Linked DNA regions of Homo sapiens. The protein of the gene in region 2 interacts with the protein of the main gene of each other region in a pairwise test. Each region holds a gene or a part of one and is shown on either strand. Other genes may lie near its edges. The genes, in order: RHOJ, GLUL, TAT and RBBP6.

The links.
Region 1: the proteins of GLUL (region 2) and RHOJ interact in a protein complementation assay, tested with the Homo sapiens proteins (one study listed by IntAct).
Region 3: the proteins of GLUL (region 2) and TAT interact in binary tests that used the Homo sapiens proteins (3 or more experiments, as listed by UniProt).
Region 4: the proteins of GLUL (region 2) and RBBP6 interact in a two-hybrid assay, tested with the Homo sapiens proteins (one study listed by BioGRID and IntAct).

The regions. Positions count from the first base shown.
Region 1 is NC_000014.9:63,291,423-63,294,025, reverse strand, and holds the end of RHOJ (rho-related GTP-binding protein RhoJ), read right to left. Parts: 3' UTR 518-2,603; downstream 1-517.
Region 2 is NC_000001.11:182,388,754-182,396,744, reverse strand, and holds the start of GLUL (glutamine synthetase), read left to right. Parts: upstream 1-4,954; 5' UTR 4,955-5,066; intron 5,067-5,403; exon of another isoform or gene 5,404-5,570; intron 5,571-5,892; exon of another isoform or gene 5,893-6,248; intron 6,249-7,991. UniProt on the Homo sapiens protein: Glutamine synthetase that catalyzes the ATP-dependent conversion of glutamate and ammonia to glutamine.
Region 3 is NC_000016.10:71,574,088-71,581,216, forward strand, and holds the start of TAT (tyrosine aminotransferase), read right to left. Parts: upstream 3,006-7,129; 5' UTR 2,922-3,005; intron 2,341-2,921; 5' UTR 2,329-2,340; coding exon 2,094-2,328; intron 1,940-2,093; coding exon 1,835-1,939; intron 1-1,834. UniProt on the Homo sapiens protein: Transaminase involved in tyrosine breakdown. Converts tyrosine to p-hydroxyphenylpyruvate. Can catalyze the reverse reaction, using glutamic acid, with 2-oxoglutarate as cosubstrate (in vitro).
Region 4 is NC_000016.10:24,542,558-24,549,594, forward strand, and holds part of RBBP6 (E3 ubiquitin-protein ligase RBBP6), read left to right. Parts: intron 1-3,605; coding exon 3,606-3,705; intron 3,706-6,387; coding exon 6,388-6,424; coding exon of another isoform or gene 6,425-6,478; exon of another isoform or gene 6,479-6,844; intron 6,845-7,037. UniProt on the Homo sapiens protein: E3 ubiquitin-protein ligase which promotes ubiquitination of YBX1, leading to its degradation by the proteasome.

The DNA.
Region 1 (2,603 bases), on a different chromosome or scaffold from region 2:
ATGGATATCAGCTGCCACTTCTTGACTTTGGAAGACGGTGTAGACCATTAAAGGATCCTTCTTCAAATTTCTATGTCTCTTCTTTTTTTTGGAGATAGAGTCTCGCTGTTTCGCCCAGGCGGGAGTGCAGTGGTGCGGTCTCGGCTCACTGAAAGCTCCGCCTCCTGGGTTCACGCCATTCTCCTGCCTCAGCCTCCCGAGTAGCTGGGAGTACAGGTGCCCGCCACCACGCCCAGCTATTTTTTCTGTATTTTTAGTAGAGATGGGGTTTCACTGTGTTAGCCAGGATGGTCTTGATCTCCTGACCTGGTGATCTGCCAGCCTTGGCCTCCCAAAGTGCTGGGATTACAGGCGTGAGCCACTGCGCCGGGCCTCTATGTCTCTTCTTATCTTTGGTTTCAGAAGACAGTTTAATCTTATAGCAGAAAACACTTTTTAGTGAAACAAACTGGATCTTGCCGTGAAACAAGGAATAACTGATTAATTTGGCAGAATGACATCAACTTATTTAGGTTGCTTTGTTCTAGATTGTTTTATTCAGTAATTAGCTCTTAAGACCCCTGGGAGCCTGTGCTCTACCCAGACACTAACAACAGTCTCTATCCAGTTGCTGGTTCTGGGTGACGTGATCTCCCCATCAAGATCAACTTACTTCCTGTGGCCCATTAGGGAAGTGGTGACCTCGGGAGCTATTTGCCTGTTGAGTGCACACACCTGGAAACATACTGCTCTCATTTTTTCATCCACATCAGTGAGAAATGAGTGGCCCGTTAGCAAGATATAACTATGCAATCATGCAACAAAGCTGCCTAATAACATTTCATTTATTACAGGACTAAAAGTTCATTATTGTTTGTAAAGGATGAATTCATAACCTCTGCAGAGTTATAGTTCATACACAGTTGATTTCCATTTATAAAGGCAGAAAGTCCTTGTTTTCTCTAAATGTCAAGCTTTGACTGAAAACTCCCGTTTTTCCAGTCACTGGAGTGTGTGCGTATGAAAGAAAATCTTTAGCAATTAGATGGGAGAGAAGGGAAATAGTACTTGAAATGTAGGTTGTTTTTTTTTTTTTTTTGACAGGTTCTTTCTCTGTCACTCAGGCTGGAGTGTAGTGGCACAGTCACAGCTCACTGCAGCCTTACCTTCTGGGCTCAAGTGATCCTTCCACCTCAGCCTCCTGAGTAGCTGGGACTACAGGTATGTGTCACTACAACTGACTAATTTTTAATTTTTTTATAGAGACACAGGATCTCACTATATTACCCAGGCTGGTCTTGAACTCCTGAGCTCAAGCGGCCCACCCACCTCAGCCTCCCTAAGTGTTGGGATTACAGGCATGAGCCACGGTGCCTGGCTATCACGCAATTCTTAAGTGCTTATTCCAGTAGCAGAAGAGATTAGAAAGGCTGGCTTTTTCCAACAGTGGGAGCTTGAATCTGGAAAGTCTTAAAGTTGTTGTAATTTCACACTACTAAGAAGCACTTTGCTCATGCAACTGAAAAAAAAATTAAGTGCCTACCTGGGTGATTCCAGGGCACTTATAAGCAACTAAGACTAATTAGAAGTCCTCATAGCCTCTAATGAAAAGATAGGAAGTAATTCGCTCTATGATACAAAAATTCCTGGATGTTTGGAATTGTTTTACATCATTGGGCACAGGATTCCTTACTGGGAGCTTTTGCTTTCCCAGGGCCAAAGTCCCTGTTCTATGTCACACATTGTGGAGGGCAGGGGACAAATGGATACAGAGCTTGGTATCCACTGATATGGCTCCCACAAAGACATTTGGGAGGATGAGTAAGGAAAGAGAGAGGCAAAATCTCAGTACCAGTTGTAACTGGAAAATGTCATTTACATGGAATGAGAACTTACATGGGGCGAGCTGAGAAGCACTTTCAGTTGAAGCAAATAGAAAAATTAAGGCACTTTCCTTTACTTTTAGTTATTTTTAAACACGTATCTTTATGCTCAGATCTTTCTTTTATAACTGGGTTATAACTGGGGAGAATAAAAGGATCCGGGCATGAGAGAAAGTGAAATCAAGGGAGGAAGAGGGCATGCAATGGGGGAAGGGAGGAGCAGGAATGTCCACTTTACTGAATACAAAATACTGTAAAAGATGGATCCTGCCATATTCTTCCCCCAATCAACTTGGATGAAAAACAGAAATACTACATTCTTAAACACAGTTCATTTTTAGTTTGTCGTGGCAATACATGGAAAAAAATCAGGCCACTACTAAGCATCTATAGAGTGTATCTTTGGCAAAAATGTGGACCTGCAACAATTCAGATGGTTTTCTTTCAATTAGGTTCAAAAATCATGGCTCTGTAAATTTCCAAAACTTTTAAAGTCTTCTCATGTCTTCTTATAATCGGGCATTCAGAGGTACGTGTTGGTTCTAATAGCTTTGGTAGAAACATGCTGAAAATAGAAATGAATATAAAATGCCTTGTCTTTAGGCTAATTTGGTATGGATTAGTAAGGCCTGAGTGAACTGGAAATTAGTACATTTCTTGAAATAATACAAATGAATGTGAGACACATGGGTAGAACAGCAGATTCAGAAAAAAAGGTTAGTATTGTAGTCCCAAGTTTTA
Region 2 (7,991 bases):
TGTTTGTTTCCTGTTAAAATTTGGCGAGTCAATGTGAAATAAACAGGGATCCAAATTAACTAATGAGGTGGGAGGGGAGGGAGGAAGGGCTGTGGATCCCATTGAGGATTTCTTTGGGAATGGTACCAACTAAAGCACATACTCTGATCTAAATAATTTTTTGATCAGAATGCTAAATTCTCTAAATTTTTTAATTAGCTTCAATAATGTTCCAATCAATCTACAGAACAACGATCTGTACAGTGTAAATTGAGAATAAAGGACAAAATGTATCTAAAAAAACCCGATTCACAAAACAATGAAACTGGAGGCAGATTATCAGATGTGAAAAATGATCTCCAAAGAGTCCTTCAAAGAGAATCTTTCCTATGGTGTTGTTTTTTTCTGCTAATCTAGTTATTCACAAAGAAAATATATATTGAGTGTCTGCTATACAGAAGTCACTGGGTAAGCATACCCAGGATTGAGAGGTAAATGGTTGCTCCCTGTCCTCTGCACCTCCCTCAGTGAGGACTGTAGGAATTTCAGTATTTTAGAGATGGTGGCCCCGGAACAGATCACCCACAGACCAAAGCGACTAAAGGAAAGGGAACAGAAAAAGAACAGCACCTTGAAAGCTCATTAAGCTCTAAAATACTAACCAAACATGACTTCATCAAGTTACTATGAGTTATCTAAGCCTCAGTTCCTCATCTTTAAGATAGAATGATGTGAAGATCTAATTCTAGAATTGTATGGCTTTAATTTTCTCAATAGGACATTTTCCCCAGGTTGTTAACTAAGATGAACTTGATTCTTCCCAACTTTCCACGTAGTTTCCTGCTAGAGACATGATTCAGGGTAGAGCTCAAACAGACCCAAACCTTCCATCATAACACGCAGTTGGGGAAATGAAGTGTTCCTTGTATTTGACTGATTTCAGCACGCATCCTACAAAACTCAAATCAGGCTACAGATATGGCTGAGACGTGAATTTCCAATTTCCTGTCTTGAACTGAAGAATATCAAACAATCAAAAACTGTAAAGAACAATTCCTCCATTCTTAGTGCTAGTTATTGAACTGAAGTATAATGTAAATGTAGTCTTTCCTTCTCTAATTGTATAAAGTGAAATTTGAAAGCTTGGCCAACTACAGCTTTTCCCTAAATTATGGTTTAAGAATAATGCTATCAACTTCCAGAGCTATTTCTTTTCTTCTTCATTTTTATTATTATTATTTTGATTTGGTTTAAGATTCTACTATGGTCCATTCTTTTGGAAAGAACTGATGTTGGTTTATTACATAATAATAATTTTTAAAAGAATATTTTACAATTCTGGGTTGGGTTTCCAGGGTGTTCCCCAACCCTGAGTCTCAATTGTATCTCTTTAACATGATTTAAAGGTCTCACTGAATGCCTATTGAAATCATTCATACACAGGGAAAACTCCATTTCCTAAACAGAAAAGGTTTGGTCAATGTGAGCCCTACCCTAAATTTTGTGTCTAATGTGTATAAGGCAACCACACAGGCCCTGGGAAGGCACTCCAGATCCCCAGGTAAAGGACTTCATACTTGCAGAGTGAGAATGGATCCTTTAAAAGACAGAGAAAGGGCCGGGCACAGTGGCTCACGCCTGTAATCGCAGCACTTTGGGAGGCCGAGGCAGGCGGATCACAAGGTCAGGAGTTCAAGACAAGTCTGGCCAATATGGTGAAACCTCGTCTCTACTAAAAATACCAAAAAATTAGCTGGGTGTGGTGGCACACGCCTGTAATCCCAGCTCCTTGGGAGGCTGAGGCAGGAGAATTGCTTGAACCCGGGAGGCAGAGGTTACAGTGAGTGGAGGTTGCAGTGAGCCGAGATTGCGCCACTGCATCCAGCCTGAGCAACAGAGTAAGACTCCGTCTCAAAAAAAAAAAAAAAAAAAAAAAAAAAAAAGAGAAAAGTTGTTTCCTAATAGAGATAAGATTTGGGAGTAGAGCAAAATCCTAATACAAAGCTTTTATTTCAGGCAGCAGAACAACATTGAAGAAATACTTTTAATCTCAGGCTATTTCTGCAGATTTGGAACAAAATCTTTCCCTGTAATTGCTCTCCCACTCCACCCACCCCTTGGACATGGCAATTCTACTCTAAGAGAGAAAAATATGACTTCAAAGCACATGCAATGGAACCCCTTGTCAGCACTGATATGGTGTGTACCAAGAAACAGAAAAGTTCATGGGTTCAAGCATTCTAATGCTCTTTTTATGGTGGGGGTGAAGAATGGGGGCGGGTGGCAATTTAGGGAAGAAGGGGAAGGAGAAGAAAGGGCAGCAGACACAGCAAAGTCAAACTGGATGAAACAGGCTGTTTTACTTTTAACTTCTCTAAAAGTACAGTCTGGGTTTCTGCGGGTGAACCAGTTAAGGGTTTTCTTCTGCTTTTACTTCTCGCCTATGCTCAAGCCTCCCTGGTCAGTTCTTGGACTCATCTGCGCCCTAATTTCATCATTTTAAGTAAATGTGGGGCTGGCCAAGGAGGACAAGGCCTCTTGTTCACTCCTGAAAGAGTCAGTGGTCATGTATTATGTTCCTAACCCTTACAAAGCGTGCCCCTGGTCACATGAATGGATCAAAGCAAATCCATTTCCATTCTTGGAAAAGCAGCTCAAAGCACATGTTCTCTTGATGGTGCTGCTGTCACTTCTGTGTGGTTAACAAATATCATTTATTGAACACTCACCGTGGACACTACTGGGGGATATGACAATGAATAAACTGCTCAATGAGGTCAAGACATCTAGGAAGGGAAGCAGGCACTCAAATGGCAGAAATACCATAAGCCTGCAGAACCGCACTCACGCCTTACCATTCCGTTCTCTGTTATGTTTGTCATCCCCACCTCAGGGGCTGGTGGTGTGTGCAGCAGAGGCTCTGGCTTATGGTTCGGTAGTTTGGTATCTGGAAATGATTAATAACATCTTTTAAAATAAAAATATCACTTTTCTCCTCCTTTGCTCCCCTTCCTCGACCATTTAAACTCAAACCTTTACAGAAAGAGATGAAGACAGCTCACTGTGTTACCAAGGTTAAGTCCAGTTTGATATAATGAATGGTAAAGCATTACACTGAGTCAGAAAAGTTGTATTCAAAAGTCGCTATGGGGAAAGAAAGAATCCAATCACCTCAGATTATAGAACTTGGCCTATGATAATTATAATTGCTGTTTTCTAAACATTTACGATGCACCAAGGACTACTCAATCTCTTCTGCATGTGCTATCACAATTAATCCTTTTATGAGGTAAAAATGATTATCCCTCTTTTATTATAGACAAAGAAACAGGCTTCATGTGGCTAAGTGATTTGGCCAACACAAAGCTGGTATGAAGGGAAAGCCCAGATTTGAACCTAGGTTTACCTGACTTGCAGCCGTGCCTTTAGCCACCACAATGTAATGCTTCAAGGGGCAGCACTGAAATTTAACAAGGAATTTGTAAGGCACCTTACCCAATCCAAAATGTCACCAGTCTGAAACATCCCAAAAAACCCTGTTTGAGATGAATGCTGCATCTGTCATGTAAAAGCACTACAGTGTTATACACTCTTAAAGGAAAGGGATGTTGACCAAAGAAGCCAAGTTATGTGTGTGTGGTTGCAGGCAACATTTCTTTTCCACATTTGCGGTACAAAACATAACCAGAACAAACTTCTTCCCTTCCTCTTCCAAAGGCACTGGAAGCATAAATTCTTGCTCTTTAAACTGAAAGAAGCAATAAAATCTGGACACCATCAGGTAGATTTCAGGCACTAAAAATAGAATGATCGAGTAATAGTACGGATAGCAGTATCTACCTACCTACCTACCTACCTACCTATGTTGTGTCTCTAGGTACATTTCAATATTGTGTTCACATACACATTTTCCCAACCATCACGGCAAGCTGAGAGGAGAGGTATGTATTCCCATTTTCCAGATTAACAAGAAGCCGCACTTGATAAAGCAAAATCAGGGAGAATTCGTTAAAGGAATTTCTTGACAATCCCTGGACTTCAAAGGGGGCAAGTGAACACCTCGATTTCCTTTCAGCTGCTCCGGGGGCAGTTTGCACACAGAATTTCAAATCTAGTGGGCGGCTCCACAGGTCATTTTCGATGACCACTTTATTTTGCAGATGAGGAAACTTGGGCCCTGAAAGACCTGCCTAGGGTCTGGCCAGCAGTATGAGACAGGTCTCCAGACTTAGTTTCTACCGCCCTCCAGAATCCTCTCTGTAAAATTAGAGAAACAGCACGTTGATTTCAAATGTGAAATGGCAGAGTTCTGTTTATTTCCCCAGACCCAAGAGAGCCGGAGCGGGCGGCTCTTCCAGGCCTTGGGAACCCCGGCCTGTCCCCAGGCCCGCGCGGCACCCGCCCTAGCCCAGGCCCGCCCAAAGTTCCCTCGGGTCCCGCGCCCCGCGCTCCCTCTCAAGCTAACCCCTGCCCGCAGGAAGCGGGGCTCGGAGGCTCCCTCGCAACAAAAGGCTAAATTCGGTTTCCCTGGTTCCGCATTTCCCCAGGGAGCTCTCCTCGTAAAACTATTCCCCGTGAAGGCGGCAGGGCAGAGGTCCAGGGCGGGCTTTGCTGGGAGCCTCGGGACCCCGGGTTGGGGGCCGTGGGGCGGCACCTGGCGAGCTGGCGGGTGGGCGGCGAGCCGAGGCTTCCCGGCCTGGCGGCAACTCGCCCCTCTGCCCTCAGCCCTCCCGGCTCCGCTCCCTTCCCCCACGCCGCCCTGCCCCTCCCCCACGCCCCTTTCTCTTTCTTTCTTTCTTTCCCAGTTCGCTTGCCCCCACCCCAGCGGCGCCCGCCGGGCTCCTCGCCCAATGGCCGCGGGGCCCGGGACCGCATCAGCTGATCGGCCCGGGCTCCTGGCCGCTGGGAGCCAATCAGGGCACCGGGGGCGGCCCCGGGCCGCGGATAAAGGGTGCGGGGCTGCTGGCGGCTCTGCAGAGTCGAGAGTGGGAGAAGAGCGGAGCGTGTGAGCAGTACTGCGGCCTCCTCTCCTCTCCTAACCTCGCTCTCGCGGCCTAGCTTTACCCGCCCGCCTGCTCGGCGACCAGGTAAGCCCCCGGACGGCCCGGTGTCACGCAAGCGAGGCGCGCCGCCCCTGCTACCCCGCGAGGCGCGCCGCCCAGCCTCTTTTTTCGGCTGCCTGCCCCTCCAGTCCCAGCCCTACGCTGCGGCCTCTCCGGCCCATGCCTGAGATCCGGCATGAGTGCTCCTCCCGCGTGCTTCCGCCGCTGGTGGCTTGGACCCGTCGGGGCTGGCGCTGGTGGGGCGCGCCCTTGGCCAGGCTCTGGGAAGGGCGGGGTGAGTTGTTTTGATCTTCTTTTCACTACTTGCGGCCGAAGCGCCGCCCCTGGAGGCCGTTGGGCCGGCCTGCGCCCTGGGGCTCGCAGTGGTTTGTTTGCGCTGTGGATGGAGTGGCGGTGCGGTCCCCTGTGGAGCGCAAACAAGGCGCTTGGTTGGCGCGGGCGCCTGGCTGCCTTCCTCGTGGTGGGGCCTTCGGAGCAATCGTCCTGGTTCTGGCGATGGTTGAGACGCCTCGATTGCGGCGTGTAACGGTGAGCGTTGTTTGGGCGGCCGGCTCCCGCCTCGGGGTCCCGGGGGCCTTCCAATGTGACCGAACAATGGAGAGCCCGGGCCTCGGCGCAGTCAGTGGAGAAGCCGGTCCGGGCGGAGGCAGCAGCAGCGCGCAGTCCCTACGGCCTGCGCCCCCACCCTCCCCCGGACCCCCCAACCCCTCGGCGGCAGGGTATGGCCACCTCCGTGAGGCCCTGAGATTCGGACGGGGGCCCGAGGGGCAGGGCGCCCACTTTAGGGACATTTCAGTGGGAAGGGGCTGCTCTCAAAGTGGATAATTATAACTCCCTCGGGGGCGGGAAGCGGGGATCCTCCCCCAGCCGCAAGTCCACGAAGAAAGCAACGAATGAAAATTATGAAGACAACGAGAAGTCAGACTCCTCCGGGTCGCGCTCCAGCTGCTTCGGCTTCGTCGCCTACTCTGTGAACTCCGGGGAGAGATCTCGAGTCAAGATTAAGACCTTAACCCACCAACCTGCCTGTTCGGACACCCCCCGGGCCGGCCGCTGTCTGTCCCCTTCTCCATCGCCCTCTCCCAGAAAGCTCCGGTGCTTGGACCAGCTAGAGTCTGAGAAAGAGGAGAGGCGCGAACGCCACTCCAAAAAGAGAAGGGTTAAAGAGGGCAACCCTAACGATACGCTTGACTTTCTGTGGCTGGGGTGAGTGAGGGGGCAGGGAGGACGACCCCGGAGTTGGTGGGAGCTGCAGAAACTGCTGAAAACTTCAGAATCCATTTCCCCCACGTAAACTTGGCACCGCAGCAGCAGCAGTTGATAGAGTGGCACTAGGCTGCTGGCATGCAACTCGGCTCACGGAAAAGAGCAAGAGATCCGAAACTGAGGCTTAGGACAAAGTGTGCATGATATTGGTGGTGTAACATGTTGGAGAGGACAGCCGAGAAATTGGGTTGTAGGTTTTTTTTTTTTGTTTTCCGACAGAGTCTCTATCTGTTACCCAGGTTGGAGTGCAGTGGTGCAATCTCCCGGCTCACTGCAACCTCTGCCTCTGGGGTTCAGGCGATTCTCCTGTGTCAGCCTCCCGAGTAGCTGGGATTACAGGCGTGCACAACCACGCCCGGCTAATTTTTGTATTTTTAGTAGAGACGGGAGTTTCATCGTGTTGGCCAGGCTGGTCTCGAACTTTGTACCTCAGGTGATCTGCCCGCTTCGGTGGGTTGTAGCTTTTAGCGGGAGCTAAAGGGTTCTGGGATGGAGGTGGGAAGTAGGATTTGGCCGGCTGAGTCTTCTAGAGGCAATATTGGGGTGTTGGTCTTCCCCAAGGGGAAGGGTGGTGAGGCTGAGGGAGAAGCAGTTATGTTTTCAGCTGGGCAAACATGGACGGTTGCCCGTAGAAACTTTGCCACTGTACTTCAGAACGTTGCCCTAGTCGTTGGAGGAGAACAATGTGTTCCCTTTCTAGCCACCCTGGTCCACGGAGGGAGGAGGGAGAGAGAGAATGTTTCCTCTTCGGCTGTTGTGGCTTGAGAGTTTCTCTTCTTTCGGAGGTTTTGTGGTAGTGGCTGGCAGTTATTAGTATGCCTCATGGCTTTTAAATTTCCAGATCTTTTTGATTTAGAAGTGGAAATTTCCTAATTACTTGACAAGTCTTGTAGAATTCCATAATGTTGTGATTCTTGCCCACTATCTTAAGTGAGACTTTGCATGAGACCTATGGAAATTATGGCAGCATTCCCCTTAGAATCTGGCTTGAATCAGCTTTTGTGTAGGAAACTGCTAGCCTTCTAAAAAAATATATTGTAACCTTGTTTCATCCTCAAATCTAAATGTGTAATGAGTTTTCTTTTGGTGGGGAGGGGCGGTGGGTTTGAGTTAAGACCACAGCTAGGATGAAAGACAAAGAGAAAAACAAACTGTGGAAGCCAAGCCTGTTCTGTGGCTGGATTTTACTTATATTGGAAGAAGTTCTATGTTTTGTAAATTTGTGTATTGGTTTTGATTTGTTTCCTCTGATAGTTTAGTATTTGGATAGTTTAGTGTTAACCTCAGCTACACTGAAGGAATAGACCTTAGTCCTCACAAGTATAAGTTCTAGCTTGGAAGCCTGGGTTCTGCAGTAGCTGTGGAACTTAAGCCTGTGAGCTCAGGGATGCAGAGGCATTGAGTTACTACCAAGGGCCTGATCTTTTCTTTAGCAGGCATCTGTGTTAATTGTTTCAAAAGGTGGTGATCAGTTTTACAGCCTATTATAAAGGAGATTTTTGCCTACTATAAAACTAATCCCCCTGAAAGAGTGAGTAAACATAACTTTTTGTGTGTTGACTTCCACAAGGGAAGGAGTTGGCACTTACACTCTGACTTTTGATTCAGTCGTCCTTCTTGAGCCATTTTTGCAGGGGATCAGTTTGGAGTGGGCGTTAACAATGTTATTCTTTTTTTCTTCTC
Region 3 (7,129 bases), on a different chromosome or scaffold from region 2:
TCTCAGCCATTGTGGATAAAGGAGATTCACTTCACATTTTATGTTTTACAATTTTAGTATAAGCACGAATGTATAAATGATAACAAGGAAGAGCTCCCCAAATACTCTGCACCATCTTGATTTCTGTGATTATATTTTATTCTGTGTAATACAAGGATTTCTATTATTCCCAAATCTTTTTTAGGGACTGTATTTTTTAAGAAGTTGTAATCGCCAGGCGCGGTGGCTCACGCCTGTAATCCCAGCACTTTGGGAGGCCAAGGTGGGTGGATCACCTGAGGTCGGGAGATTGAGACCAGTCTGACCAACATGGAGAAATCTCATCTCTACTAAAAATACAAAAATTAGCTGGGCATTGTGGCGCGTGCCTGTAATCCGAGCTACTCAGGAGGCTGAGACAGGAGAATCACTTGAACCCGGGAGGCGGAGGTTGCGGTGAGCCAAGATCATGCCACTGCACTCCGCCTGGGCAACAAGAGCGAAAACTTCGTCTCAAAAAAAAAAAAAAAAAAAAAAAAAGAAGTTGTAATCAGTGCATTCAATTCATGTGGTCCATTTTAAGTTTTTTATGTTATGTAATATTCTTATCAGTATTTTTGTACAAATTTTTATTTCAAATTATTTTTGTACAATATTTCCAAATGTTGGCTTACAAGCTTGAAGTATCAGCAGTTTCATGCCCATCATAATATTTTGCAAAATTTATGTTCAAAAAGACAACTTAGCAAGGCTAGAGGCACTATTTCATAATGTTTACTAATTTAATAGGTATAGATGGGTGTCTCAAAGTTATACAAATCAGCACTTCCTTAATTACTAATGAGGAAGAACACTTTTTTAGACATATATTAACACCTGTATCTCCTTTGAAATGAAATGTTCAGAACCTTTGAACATTTGTCAAATGGAGACTTGGTTTTGGTTTTTCAGGTTAAATCAGTTTCCTAATATTTGGATGTTAAAGTCATTAGAAACTTTTTTTATAACAACTTTTGGTCTTGATTTTGCTTTTATTTTTGTTGTATGAAACTTTATAAAATGTAAGTAATCAACCGAAAAACCACGAAGTCCCCGATATAACTCTTTAAAGTGTTTTTAAAATTTGATTTTATCATGAAACTGGGGTTTTATTCTGCATTAAGAATGTGTTTCTATGTACACATAAGGAAAAAAAATGTTCAATACTGAAAGTCAAGGAATCATGTACTTTACCAAAATATTCAGGGTAGAAATTTTTAATAGATGGAGAGAAACCTAAAAAGGAGTAATTTCAATCTATCAGAAACAACCTTCTATCCTTCAGTTTGACAGCCCATTTTTTGTTGTTCTTGGGTGTTTGTTTATTTGTTTGTTTAAACCCGTTAGTCATAAACGGTAACAATTGCATTTCAATGTGCTCAGGACCATAATGAAAATAGGCCTTCAATACATAGAGAAGCAGAAATGAAGCAAAGGAGCTATATACACAGAGCAATAAGTAAATCCATTTAGGACCTAGAGGCTCAGCAAACACAAAGCTCCTGCCAGACTCAAGGCCTTCAGATTAGAATTAGTAATGATAGGATAGGAGCTTTACTTGACAAATAAGTATGTTTGGGAGCCTAGAGGGGAAGTGCCCATATGTCAAAGAAAGCCAGGAAAGAAGTTGGACCTTGATGCCTTGTATTTAAGCATCCCGAGACCCGGTTCCCAAATCCAAAGGACCATGTAATCTTAGCCTCTCCTTAGGAATTGTGCATCAGGAAAGTGAAGAGGATTGCTAGACATTTAGTCCTGTTATAAGAGCACTAAAGATTTGGCAGTCACCAGGTATGGAGTCTCAGGAGGAGCTTACCGATGGATGGGGCATAGCCATTATATTTGCCCGAGTCCAGGGCATCTTTCATTGCCTGGGTAACTTCAGGGTCTGTAGGCAGGTTTCCAAACACAGTAGGGTCCCCTTTTTATGGGAGGAAAACACAAAAGGAGCCAAGAGGTTATTCTCCCATGTTCAGTACTCAGACTCACCCCCAACTGCCATCTTCTCCAACCAGCCTGTGAACATGAGAGTAGAGGAGGACAATGACAGCCCCTCAGTAGTGTCCCCAACTCACCAATGGACAGGGAAATCATGGTTTTGTTTGGATTTGGTTTCACCTTCATGTTGTCCACAATGGCTCGGATGGGGTTGAAAGTTTTCTTGGCCATGTCTGAGGGCCTCACAGACCACCTGGCCTTTCTGCCTTTCATTTTTCCCGGCACAGAGCTTCTCCCACCAACGTTGACATGCACGTCCAGAATTGAGGGGAGGTTGCCTTTGCTGCTCATCTGAATCATGTATGGGTCCATCACTAGCGAAGCCTGCGAGGGGAAAGAAGTTCCCTGTGATGTTGATAACATAGCGCTGGGGGACAGAGGAGCTACATTTGGACCTAAACATTGGGTGACTTCACTAAAAGTGTCTTTCCAAACTCTCTCTTTATTTTTTTTTCTACTTTCTGTTGTAAAGTAGCTTTACTATGAATGGGGGAGTTTTAAGAGTTTTTACTGAGATGGAAAATAAAGCAAGAACCCATTCTACTTAAGTAGGATTTGCTACACGCATCTGCAATTCCTGTCAAAGCTTAACCATGCTCTATGTGAAACCAAGAAGGAATAAGATGAAAATTGTTCATCAGTCAAAGCATAGGTTCTCCTTCCTTTCCATGCGAGCCTATCCAAGAAAATCTACCTAATGCTTCTTGTCATCTGCAGAGGACCAGGAAGAACCACTCCATCTTGTTAGAAGTTCCATGTAAATATCATTGTTAGTAAAAGTAAAACCTTATCCCATAAGCATGTTACAGCCCTAGCTGGAAAAAGAAATCAATACACCAAAAAGAAAAAAATTAACAGCTCAATCAGTCACCACTGCCTGATCAGCTTGGGCTTGAGATTTTTACCTTCCAAGTAAAGGAGAAAGCAGCCTCCAAGAAGCCAACCCCGAAAGCTCCCTTAGCTCTTCTTTGACAGGTTACAGGGGCAATGAACTCAGATGCAAATCCTAACTCCTGAAATAGTCTCCACAAATGGGCGTTGGGCTTGAAACTTTCATGCCATTGGTTGGAATGACAACTCAGCAGCCAGCTCTCCCCTCAGCTTCTTTCCTCCTCTCCCCCGTCATTGCCTCTCATCCCTAAGCCCACCTCCCACCCTCAAAGCAGGAATTTGTCCTCACTTCAAACATCTGGAATTCTCCTGTGTTAACTCTTTCTGGGCACTTGGTGAGATGGTTTGAGAACATCTACTGTCAGAAAGTACTTCTGGTTACAGTTGATAGCTTTTATTAAATTTTTTTTACAAAACAGCCTGTTAAAATTTTAACAGTACAGAAATATATAAAGTAAGAAGTGAGCATTCTTCCTTGCACCTGCTCCCTGTACACTTCATTCTCACTCCCAGGGGTAGAGGGTGGTAATGGTCAGGCTCTTTCCCTCCATTCAGAGATAGATACATTACATATAGGTGCATAGATACATAATTTCATAGATTTCAAAACACAGATAGGATCGTGCTCTACACCTTGTTTGGCAACATTTTTTTTTTAACTTCCTACATCTTGGACGCCCATCCTTGTCAGTCCACAAAGTTTTGCTCCAATCAGAACAAATTGGGCACTTAAGTTCCATTCAACAAATAGCTGAAAAGCACAGGGTGTCCAAGGCAGCTGAAACCTGTGCAGTTTTATCCTTGCACTGTGCATGAATTCTTCATTTACCTCCTATGGTTGTTGGAAGAATTTAAAATGTCAGGTGCGATCCACACAAAACAACTTTGCTAAGCAAAACACAAGGTCCACAGCCAAAATCTCAACATTCCTGTGAGCAGATGGAAAATACCACCCACTGAAGGGTTAAGAGAAGCCTCAGTGATCTCCCCAGGGCTCAGATCCTGTCTGTTTATTTGTTGGAAGACAAAGATTTTTCACATCAGTTTGTTCTTCTCCATTCACTTTTCAGGGAGTCAAGCCTCCAGTGGGGTTGAATACAGTAGTCCCCCCTTATCCACAGGGAGCACACTCCAAGACCTCCAGTGGATGCCTGAAATTATGGATGTCTGAAACCATGGGTAGTACTGAGCCCTAGGTACACTATGTTTTTTCTTATACAGTAATGGCAGGTAACGTCTATAGCATGGATACACTAGAAAAAATTATTCACGTCTTGGGCCAAGGGCATCCTTGTCATAAATGTTAGTTTACATATTTGATTATTTCCTTAAGACAGATTTCTATACAAGGACTGTGTTGCAAAGAATAAGCATTTCTCTTTTACATTTTTAGTAAATATGATATATCCTTATATAATAAATTCAAATAGAGATGTACGTGAATTAAACCCTGATCACCTTCCCTCCCTGCATTCTCATTTTATATAAAAAAATCATTTTTAGTCATTTCTTGTGTACCCTTCCAAATGTTTTCTATGTTTATTACAATACGTATAAAGCTGGTTTGGGAGTTGCTAAAAAAATGGAGAGTAAACGTGGTCTATAGTTGCACTGTCTAATATTGTAGCTACTAGTCATAAGTGGCCGTTGAATACTTGAAATGTGACTGGTCTGAATTAAGATGTGTTGTAAAATACACATCAGGTTTTGAAGACTTAGTATAAAAAAAGAATGTTAATATCTCATATAATTTTGTATGATTACATGTTTAAAGAATATTTTGGGGCTGGGCATGGTGGCTCACACCTTTGGTAATCCCAGCCTTTCGGGAGGCCAAGGTGGATGGATCACTTGAGCTAAGGAATTCAAGACCAGCTTGGGCAACATAGTGAAACCCCGTCTATACAAAAAGATACAAAAACTAGCCAGGCATGGTGGCATGAGCCTATAGTCCCAGCTACTTGGGAGGCTGAGGTAGGAAGATCACCTGAACCCAGGAGGTCAAGGCTGCAGAGAGCTGTGATCATGCCATTGCACTCCAGCCTGGGTGACAGAATGAGACCTTGCCTCAGAAAAAAAAAAAAAAAAAAATATATATATATATATATATATGTATATATATATATAAAATGTATTTTATTTTACTCAGTACACCGTATATATATAATAAAATATATAATAAAATATATGATAATAAAATACATGGTGTGCTGAGTAAAATAAAATACATTCTTAAAATTAATTTCACCTATTTGTTTTTATATCTTAAAATATTTCTATTAGGAAATTTGAAGTCACTATGTGGCTTGCATTCTGTCTATTGGACAGGGCTGTTCTGTAGCTTGCTTTTTTTAAAATCTTAATAATGTGTGGGCTGGGCGTGGCAGCTCATGCCTGTAACCCCAGCACTTTGGAGGCCAAGGCAGGCAGATCATCTGAGATCAGGAGTTCAAGACCAACCTGGCCAACATGGCAAAACCCCATCTCTACTAAAAATACAACAATTAGCCAGGCACAGTGGTGCACACCTGTAATCCCAGCAACTCAGGAGGCTGAGGCAGGAGAATCGCTTGAACCCAGGAGGTGGAGGTTGTGGTGAGCCGAGATCGTGCCACTGCACTCCAGTCTGGGCGACAGAGTGAGACTCCGTCTCAAAAAATAAAAAATAAAAATAAATAGCCTGGTGTGGTGGCTCACGCCTATAATCCCAGCACTTTGGGGTTGCTGAGGCAGGCGGATCACGAGGTCAGGAGATGGAGACCATCCTGGCTAACACCGTGAAACCCCATCTCCGCTAAAAATACAAAAGTTAGCCCAGCCTGGTGGCGGGTGCCTGTAGTCCCAGCTACTCGGGAGGCTGAGGGAGGAGAATGGCATGAATCCGGGAGGTGGAGCTTGCAGTGAACTGAGGTCGCGCCACTGCACTCCAGCCTGGGCGACAGAGCCAGACTCTGTCTCAATAAATAAATAAATAAAATAAAAAATAAAGCATATCGAATGTCCTTGTACATTCATGATTGATAGAGAACTTTTATGCATATCCTGTTATTTGAGGGATAGTTTCAATTACGGACTATACAAAGACGAAAGCAATGCAAATATGTTTAATTTGAACAACCTCTTGGAGTTCAGACTACCTGTCATGACAATATACTGTGCTTGAGAGATGACACAGGTACCTCACTGAGTGTTACTGTAGTGGTTCTCCAGGTGGACAGAGACTCAGAGGTGTTAAAAAAAATTATTCAATAACACTTGTTAAAGCATGGTAAGGCAGACTTTATTCAGGACCATTCCAATAGCTAGACGGCCCACTGCAATGGATTTTCCAGTGGGGAAGAGAAATTGGATTCAACTCCAAATATGGTGATGGCAAGTGTGGATTTATAGCCAAGGATGGAAAAAGTAAGAGGAATCATCAGGAGTAAGGGGGATTCTGCTAAACTGACCTAGAAGGCCAGTGTCAGTGTCATCCTGCTGAAGACAGGCCATGGTGACCAAACATTCCCTGGGGGACGGCAAAGAATGAGGAACCTGGTCAGATATGCAGGGTGGGAAATCTTGCCAAAATGACTCAGGGTTCTTTGCTAAAACTGGATCTTGCAAGGAAGTGCAGATGGGCTTAGAAGAAGATCCAGAAGCCTGACAAAAGTCTGGTCAATCAGAGAATCTTTGTCAGAGGTTGAGACCACTGGTCTTTAAAAGAGATCAAGTAAGAATCAGATTTTTCTCAATGTGAGAAGGCTACTATGACTGATTTCTGTCACTCAAGGTTCAGATTTTCTTTTCTTTTTTTTGAGACGGAGTCTCACCCTCCTCACCCAAGCTGGAGTGCAACGACGCTATCTCAGTTCACGGCAACCTCCGCCTCCCGGGTTCATGCCATTCTCCTGCCTCAGCCTCCCGAGTAGCTGGGACTACAGGCACACACTACCACATCCGGCTAATTTTTGTATTTTTAGTAGAGACGGGGTTTCACCATATTGGCCAGGCTGGTCTTGAACTCCTGACATCAAGTGATCCTCCCGCCTCGGCCTCCCAAAGTGCTGGGATTACAGGCGTGAGCCACTGCACCTGGCCTCAAGGTTCAGATTTTCAAGGAGACACGGATCCAACTCCCCCTCCCACATTTACACAGCCTGTAAGATTGGTGTCCTGTCTCCAACTGGACATTAAACCAGGAGACTTAGATTATTCCCTTATAGGTTGTGACCCCTGGGGT
Region 4 (7,037 bases), on a different chromosome or scaffold from region 2:
GAGCGATTCTCATGCCTCAGCCTCCCAAGTAGCTGGGACTACAGGCATGCGCCACTACACCCAGCTAATTTTTTTTTGTATTTTTAGTAGAGATGGGGTTTTGTCTTGCTGGCCAGGCTGGTCTCGAACTCTTGGCCTCAAGTGATCCACCCACCTGGGTCTCCCAAAGGGCTGGGATTACAGGCATGTGAATGCAACTTTAGACTGGGTAAGTTATAGTTAAAAGAATCCTGTCCGGAAATTTAAGAGTTTTGTGACTTTGTGTAACCAATTTTTTTTTCCTAGCCCAGGAAATAAATGATACGTAATTCAAACCCAGAAAGCCAGGAATGTGTTTTTGCCCAGCACATTTTCTTTTTTATATTTATGTGAACTGCCCTTTATTGGAGAAAGCTTTGATGTTCGGTTTGTTAAGAAAAGGGAGCTTTGAGGGAGAAAATGTGTATTTTATGCAGTCCTCAAATTAAGAGAGAAAGAGATATTGATGGTAGCTACTTAACTAGTTTTATGGGAAATAGTATCCAATGTCACAAGGCAGTTGAGTAGAATGCCATTTGGTTTTAGCACCGATATTCAACATATTTACTAAAGAAAACTATGGTAATCTTTTTATCACAGTTAAGGTCCAGTTTCTTAATTTCATTCTTATAATTTTAAAATCCCTAATCTACCATGTTTCTGTAAAACATTTCCTTACAGTTTTGGAATTATGTGCATGTTTAGGTCCCTTAAATCTTTTTTTTTTTTTTTTTTGGAGACACATCCTCACAGGCTAGAGTATAATGGCACAATTTTGGCTCATTGCAGCTTCAACCTACCAGGCCCAGGTGATCCTCCCACCTCAGCCTCCCAAGTAGCTGGACTACAGCCACACACCACCATGCCTGGCTAATTTATTGTAATTTTTTTTTATTTTATTTTGGTAGAGATGGGGATTTTGCCATGTTGCCCAGGCTGGTCTCCTGAGCCCAAGTGTTCTCCTGCCTTGGCCTCCCAAGGCCATCCCAAAGTGCTGGGATTATAGGCTTGAGCCACTGTGCCTGGCATAGGACCCTTAAATCTTGATAAGACTGAAACGCTTGGGTCAGAATTCCATGGATTTTAGACAAGAATCCTGCTTGTTTCTAGACTGTATTTCAAAATGAATATCAAGTAATCTTTGTTATATATGAGAAACTTTTCTGCACACCGACCCCTAAAAAACAAAACATCCTTCGTTCTGAAATTAAAGTGTGAGAGGTTTGGAAGCTGAATATGAAGTGTTTATAAATGACCCTTGTCACCTTTCTTACTCTCCATTTCTCGGATTCATTCTGTTTTTCATTTCATCCATGCCTTTCATGTCTGGGGTCAAAAAAACTGGCAAGCAGAAAGGGTCTTTTGAAGCCAACAGACTACTTGTTAAGGAGGTATTTTAAATGAAATACCCCCAAAGTGTCTTTATTACCCCTAGAAAGATACTTTGAGGGGTAAGAAATCATTGTAATTCAGGTATTTAAAAAGTCAGTTAGAACATCTGTTTTGAAGGGCATTGAGGCACCTTTTAGTTTGACACAGTACGGTGCTAATCAAATTAATAAGCTGTCTTGGAAAGCTCTTGTGAGTGCATTGAGTTGTTACATATTCAGAAACTTCCTGTCAGGTGTTTGACACAAAGTTTTATTTCTAGAATTAACTTTTAAAAAAATCTAGTCACCCCATGCTCTCAGTTTTTCTGACTCAAAGCTTCCTCGGAATTTGGGGCTATCATGAACTGTCCAAGATAAAGATTATAGTCCTACATTGGCATGCCTAAATCTAGGAAATTGCCTACCTCTAATTGAATGCCTGTGAGATAGTGCCTTCTACTTGAAGTATATAGAAAATAACCCTTGCCTGAACAATTTCATTTCTAACAATACTATTAGCATTATGACTAAAAATAATTAATATACATTAAAAGCCGAATATGCCTACATATGTGGTAAGCGTAATAATCGGAAGAACAGAGATAGTCACTTTGTGCAGAGTAACTTTAAGTGAAGCAAGTAAACTTAATGACAATAAAAAGGCCTGGTTGTGTGATTAAAGGAGATGGATACATTTTTGCATCTCTAGGTAATTTTTCTTTTTGGTAATTTTACAGATTCTTTCTGTAGCAAATCTTTTTACCATAGTTAAGGTCCATTTTCTTAATTTCATTCTTATACAAGTATTGCAAATAGCCCAAGGAGTGTAAAAATAGGATCCATTCTTCTCCCTCTTGGTTTTCCCAGAAGGTGACATCACTGTTTATCCGATGACTGAAGCCAGGAACCCAGGGATTCCTCTGGCCTGATTCCTCTTTCTTCTTCATTTCCTTCATCTCCCCCATATTCGGTCCATCAGCAAGCTTTGTCAATCCTACCTGCAAACATTCTGTCTTTATTTCTCACATCATAACACAGGTCGTCATTATCTCTACCTGGATTTTTTAGCAGCCTGGTTATTAGTCCCCTGGTTTCTACTCTTGTTCTCCTACAGTTTGTGCTCCACATTGGTGCCACAGTAGTCTTTTTTTGAGACAGAGTCTTGCTCTGTCACCAGGCTGGAGTGCAGTGGCGCGATCTCGGCTCACTGCAGCCTCCCAGGTTCATGCCATTCTCCTGCCTCAGCCTCCTGAGTAGCTGGGACTACAGGCGCCCACCACCAAACCTTCCTAATTTTTTTGTATTTTTAGTAGAGATGGGGTTTCACCGTGTTAGCCAGGATGGTCTTAATCTCCTGACCTCGTGATCCGCCCCCCTCAGCCTCCCAAAATGCTGGTATTACAGGCGTGAACCACCGCGCCTGGCCAGTAGTCTTTTTTTCTTTAACAAAAAGCAAATAATCACTTTGCTTAAAATCCTTCAGTGTCTTCCTGTTGCACTTCAAAACAAAATATAAATCAGTGTATGGTCTATACCTTTCTGTCATTCTTTTCTTTTATTTTCTTAGGCTCTTCAAGCCGTTTCGTATCATTTTTCTACATGCTTTTTTTATCCTTTGCCTGAAATAGTCCTCAACCAGTTTTTTTCCTGTATCTGGCTGGGTTCTCAGTCTTTAAGTATCCAGTAGAAGTTCCTCCAAGGGGCTTTCTTGGAATCAACATTCTATCTGAAGTTGTATTCCACTATTCATTCCTTATTAGAAAACCATTTTCTCTTTATTCATAACGTCATAATTTAATTTTTAGTCTATCTTCCTCAGTAATAATTTCTGTGAATGCAGGGATTGTAATACTCAACTAACGTTTAGGGACTAGGAGAGACAGAATATCTTCATTCCGAATAACGGCTTTTTCACCATTCACATGTTCAGCATTTCAGACTAAACTAAAGAATGACGGTGTTACTGAGATTTGGAGTTCCACAAAAGTAGAAGTGCTAGAGCCAAGAACCTGCTGATGATATTGGTTGTCCTTTGAAAAGAAGCCCTCTTAGGGCTTTGGATGTTTGTTCTGACAATATCAGTAATCTAGTTGCAAGGAACTTGTAGTTATTATATTTAAAGTCATTTCCCATGAAATTTATATTTGAAGTTTTCTAATTCTTGGTTACGCACTCAAATCCCCAAATGGAAATTCAATTCTGTCTTTTTATTTACAGAATATACTGATGATAATGCTCTGATTCCTAAGAATTCTTCTGTAATTGTTAGAAGAATTCCTATTGGAGGTGTTAAATCTACAAGCAAGACATATGTTATGTAAGTATCAAATCTCATGTATTTCTCAAAATAGACTTTTTTTAGTTTTTTTAATTTTGTGAGAAAAAACTGTATTTTAGAACTGAACTCATTACTTTAACCTTAATGAATACATCTTCTCAAGACTGTGAGGATAGTAGGTTTCTTTGTTCGTTTGTTTTTGATTTCCTCCCCCAGTTAAATTGACTTAGCCTGTTGTGAGAGGGCCATTATTAGGAAAAATTTTTCTCCATATGGCCAGTATTTACAGATACAAGAAAGTGATATTCACATTATTTCTGTGCCTTTCTTTGACTACTTTTTTTTGTGGGGGTTCCTTCAGTTTTCTTCACTACAAAAATTTGGTGTTGTAGACATCGGTCCTAAATATTTTGACAGCATCAAGAGTATTCAGTAATGCTAACATTTACTCTTTATCAATAAGGGGCTTTGGCTGAGAGGCATAAAGTATATAGGATTTATAATCATGGGCACTGAAATCAGGCTTAGATTTGACTCCATTTACTGCTTCATACCAGTTGTGTGACTTTGGACCTTGGGTAAGTCTCTGTGCCTCAGATTCCTCAAAAATAAAATAGGGACGTGAGTACTTAACTCTAGAGGGTTGTAAGAATTAAATAGTGTCTGGCACATGCTAAATGCACATTATTGGAGTAGGAAGAGAGCAGTCTCACAACTAGTCCGGAGCTGGTATTCACTAACCTGGGGCAGGATTAAAACCTTATATCCTTAACTTTCTCTGCTTTCTTGCAATTTCAGTAGTGATAGCAGAACTATAATATGTGAAAAGGGCAGCAACATAGGTTATTTAAAGAGTAGTGATTTTCACTTAGAATTAGGTAGTATTGTTTGAAATTGGAACAAATTATTTTGAGTCAATGAAAAATTCTAGAATTTGCCAGTGCTAGGGAATGGAAAGTGTTCTTGAAATTAAGGTAAAAATAAAGTCATTTCTTGGAGCTTTACCTCATATGGGCAAGTATTCTAAGATTTTTCTCATTAGTTTGTTGTAAAGTTATATTCCATATCTTAACACTTAGAGGTCCTTTTGTGCAGTATCTTCCATATAATAGCTACTTTAAAAAGCTGAATACTTTCCTTGTTGTAATTGCCAAGTGAACTTTTAATGGTGTGTGTTCTTAACTTTAAATGATTCTAAGAATTATATATATATGTGTGTATATATATATATTGTTTTGTTTTGTTTTGTTTTTTCCTGAGATGGAGTCTCACTCTGTTGCCCAGCCTGGAGTGCAGTGGCACAATCTTGGCTCACTGTAGCCTCCGGGCTCAAGCGATTCTCCTGCCTCAGCCTCCCAAGTAGCCAGGATTATGGGTGCCCACCACCAAGCCTGGCCAATTTTTGGATTTTTAGTAGAGACTGGGTTTCACCATGTTGGCCCGGCTGGTTTCAAACTCCTGACCTCAGGTGATCCACCCAACTTGGCCTCCCAAAGTACTGAGATTACAGGCGTGAGCCACCGCACCCAGCCTAAGAATTATAAATTTATGGGGAGAATTAATTCCTACAATCCAGTGTGAAATTTTACTTTAATTTACCAAGTGCTTTTTAAAAAATGGCAAATGTATTTTCTGTAGATTTTTTGATAGAAACTCTTAAGAATTATTTGAAGTACATGGCAAAATAAGTTGCCTCTTACACAGAATTATATGTTAATGTACAATATATAGGGTTCTGTTTGTAATAAATTTGCCTCATAAAATGCATCTCAGTTTTTTTTTGAGCAAATACTAGAAAATCAAAGCTCAGTTTTTTTTTTATCTCAAATTCCAAATTATACACACACCTAGAAACTCCTGTTAGATGCTAACATTTCTCTATAGTCAAGATACCTTAAACTTTAAGCATTAAAAGGCTATAATCTAGCAACTCAACTTCTTCCCCTTTCCTGTGTGGATTAAAATAATTTCTTTTGGGGTTTATGTCTTTTAAACATCAAATTGTCCAGTTCTACACAGCCATTTAAGTCAGTTCTTTTAACTAAAATACTCTGATTATATTGTGTTTTTCTGGGAGTGAGAATTTTTGTTCAGTTTTTTTTTTTTTTCTGTTTTTAAGAGATGGGGTCACTATGTTACAGCCCAGGTTAGTCTCAAACTCCTGGGCTCAAGTGATCCTCTCACCTTGGCCTCTTGTTCAATCCTTGATTGTTGTTTTGAGACATTTGAAAAATGAAAATAGCTATCAGCCTGGCCCTCCAGATTTGAAAATTAGTTTTGGGAGCACAGCAATTTCTCAGGGATTCAAATTACAAATGTTAACAACAGCAGTCTTCCTGATGTGTGAAAATTTACGCATTCAGAAACTGGGAAATTATATAATTTAAAATTTTCAGTTTATTAAGAATAAACTACGTTTCTAAACATAAAATCCCTATACTACCTTTCAGAAAACATTTGTTTTAAGTGGCAGGGTACACCTATTTTTGAATTCCCTAGTATGGAATTTTTTTCCAAACCACAAATCTATCTTAAAACTGCTCAAAGGTGGTAAAGATTAATCAGAGTAATTTATTCATTCAGAAATTGGCTGTTAAATATTTATACCAAAGGAAAATTAGGTTCCTAAAAATGTATTATTGAAGATAATGTGTTAAAATTTATTAGCACAAAAATTCATAAATAGCTAATGTTAATTTTTGTTTTTATTTTGTGTTTTAGAAGTCGAACTGAACCAGCGATGGCAACTACAAAAGCAGTATGTAAAAACACAATCTCACACTTTTTCTACACATTGCTTTTACCTTTATAATGTAGCAGTGAAGTAAATCATTTTAGAACTTAATATCCAACTGATCATAGTACATATTGTAAATAAAATGTATTTTGATGACAGCTCAGTTGAATATGGATAATATGTGGCATCACTTGCACACTTATTTTGTAGAAATGGGTAATTTGTGCCCGTAACACTGTTTCATATTAAATATGATAGCATTATCCCTGTATGACACTGTGTTGTACAGTTAATGTATGATCCTTTTTAGATCGTTTAGGTTTTACACTAAGGAACATGATGACATGTTCTACATTTGTCTGTCTATAGTTAGTATTTTGTATGTATGTACAGGCTGTTGTGTGCTTTTTGTTTCTTGCAATAAAAAATGTTTGGAGTGTATATTTTGCCATTTTCACGTTGTATCACTTAGTTTTTGTTAGTTTTTTTTTTCCTGCCTGATTTATGGCTTCCAAAAACGCATTAGCAACATGCAAAGCTTATATTAAAGTTTGATGCTTTCTCCAAGTTCAAACACATCATAGAAAAGAGCTTTCCAGAGACCATTGATGCAGCTTTATTATTTAGTCTTGCT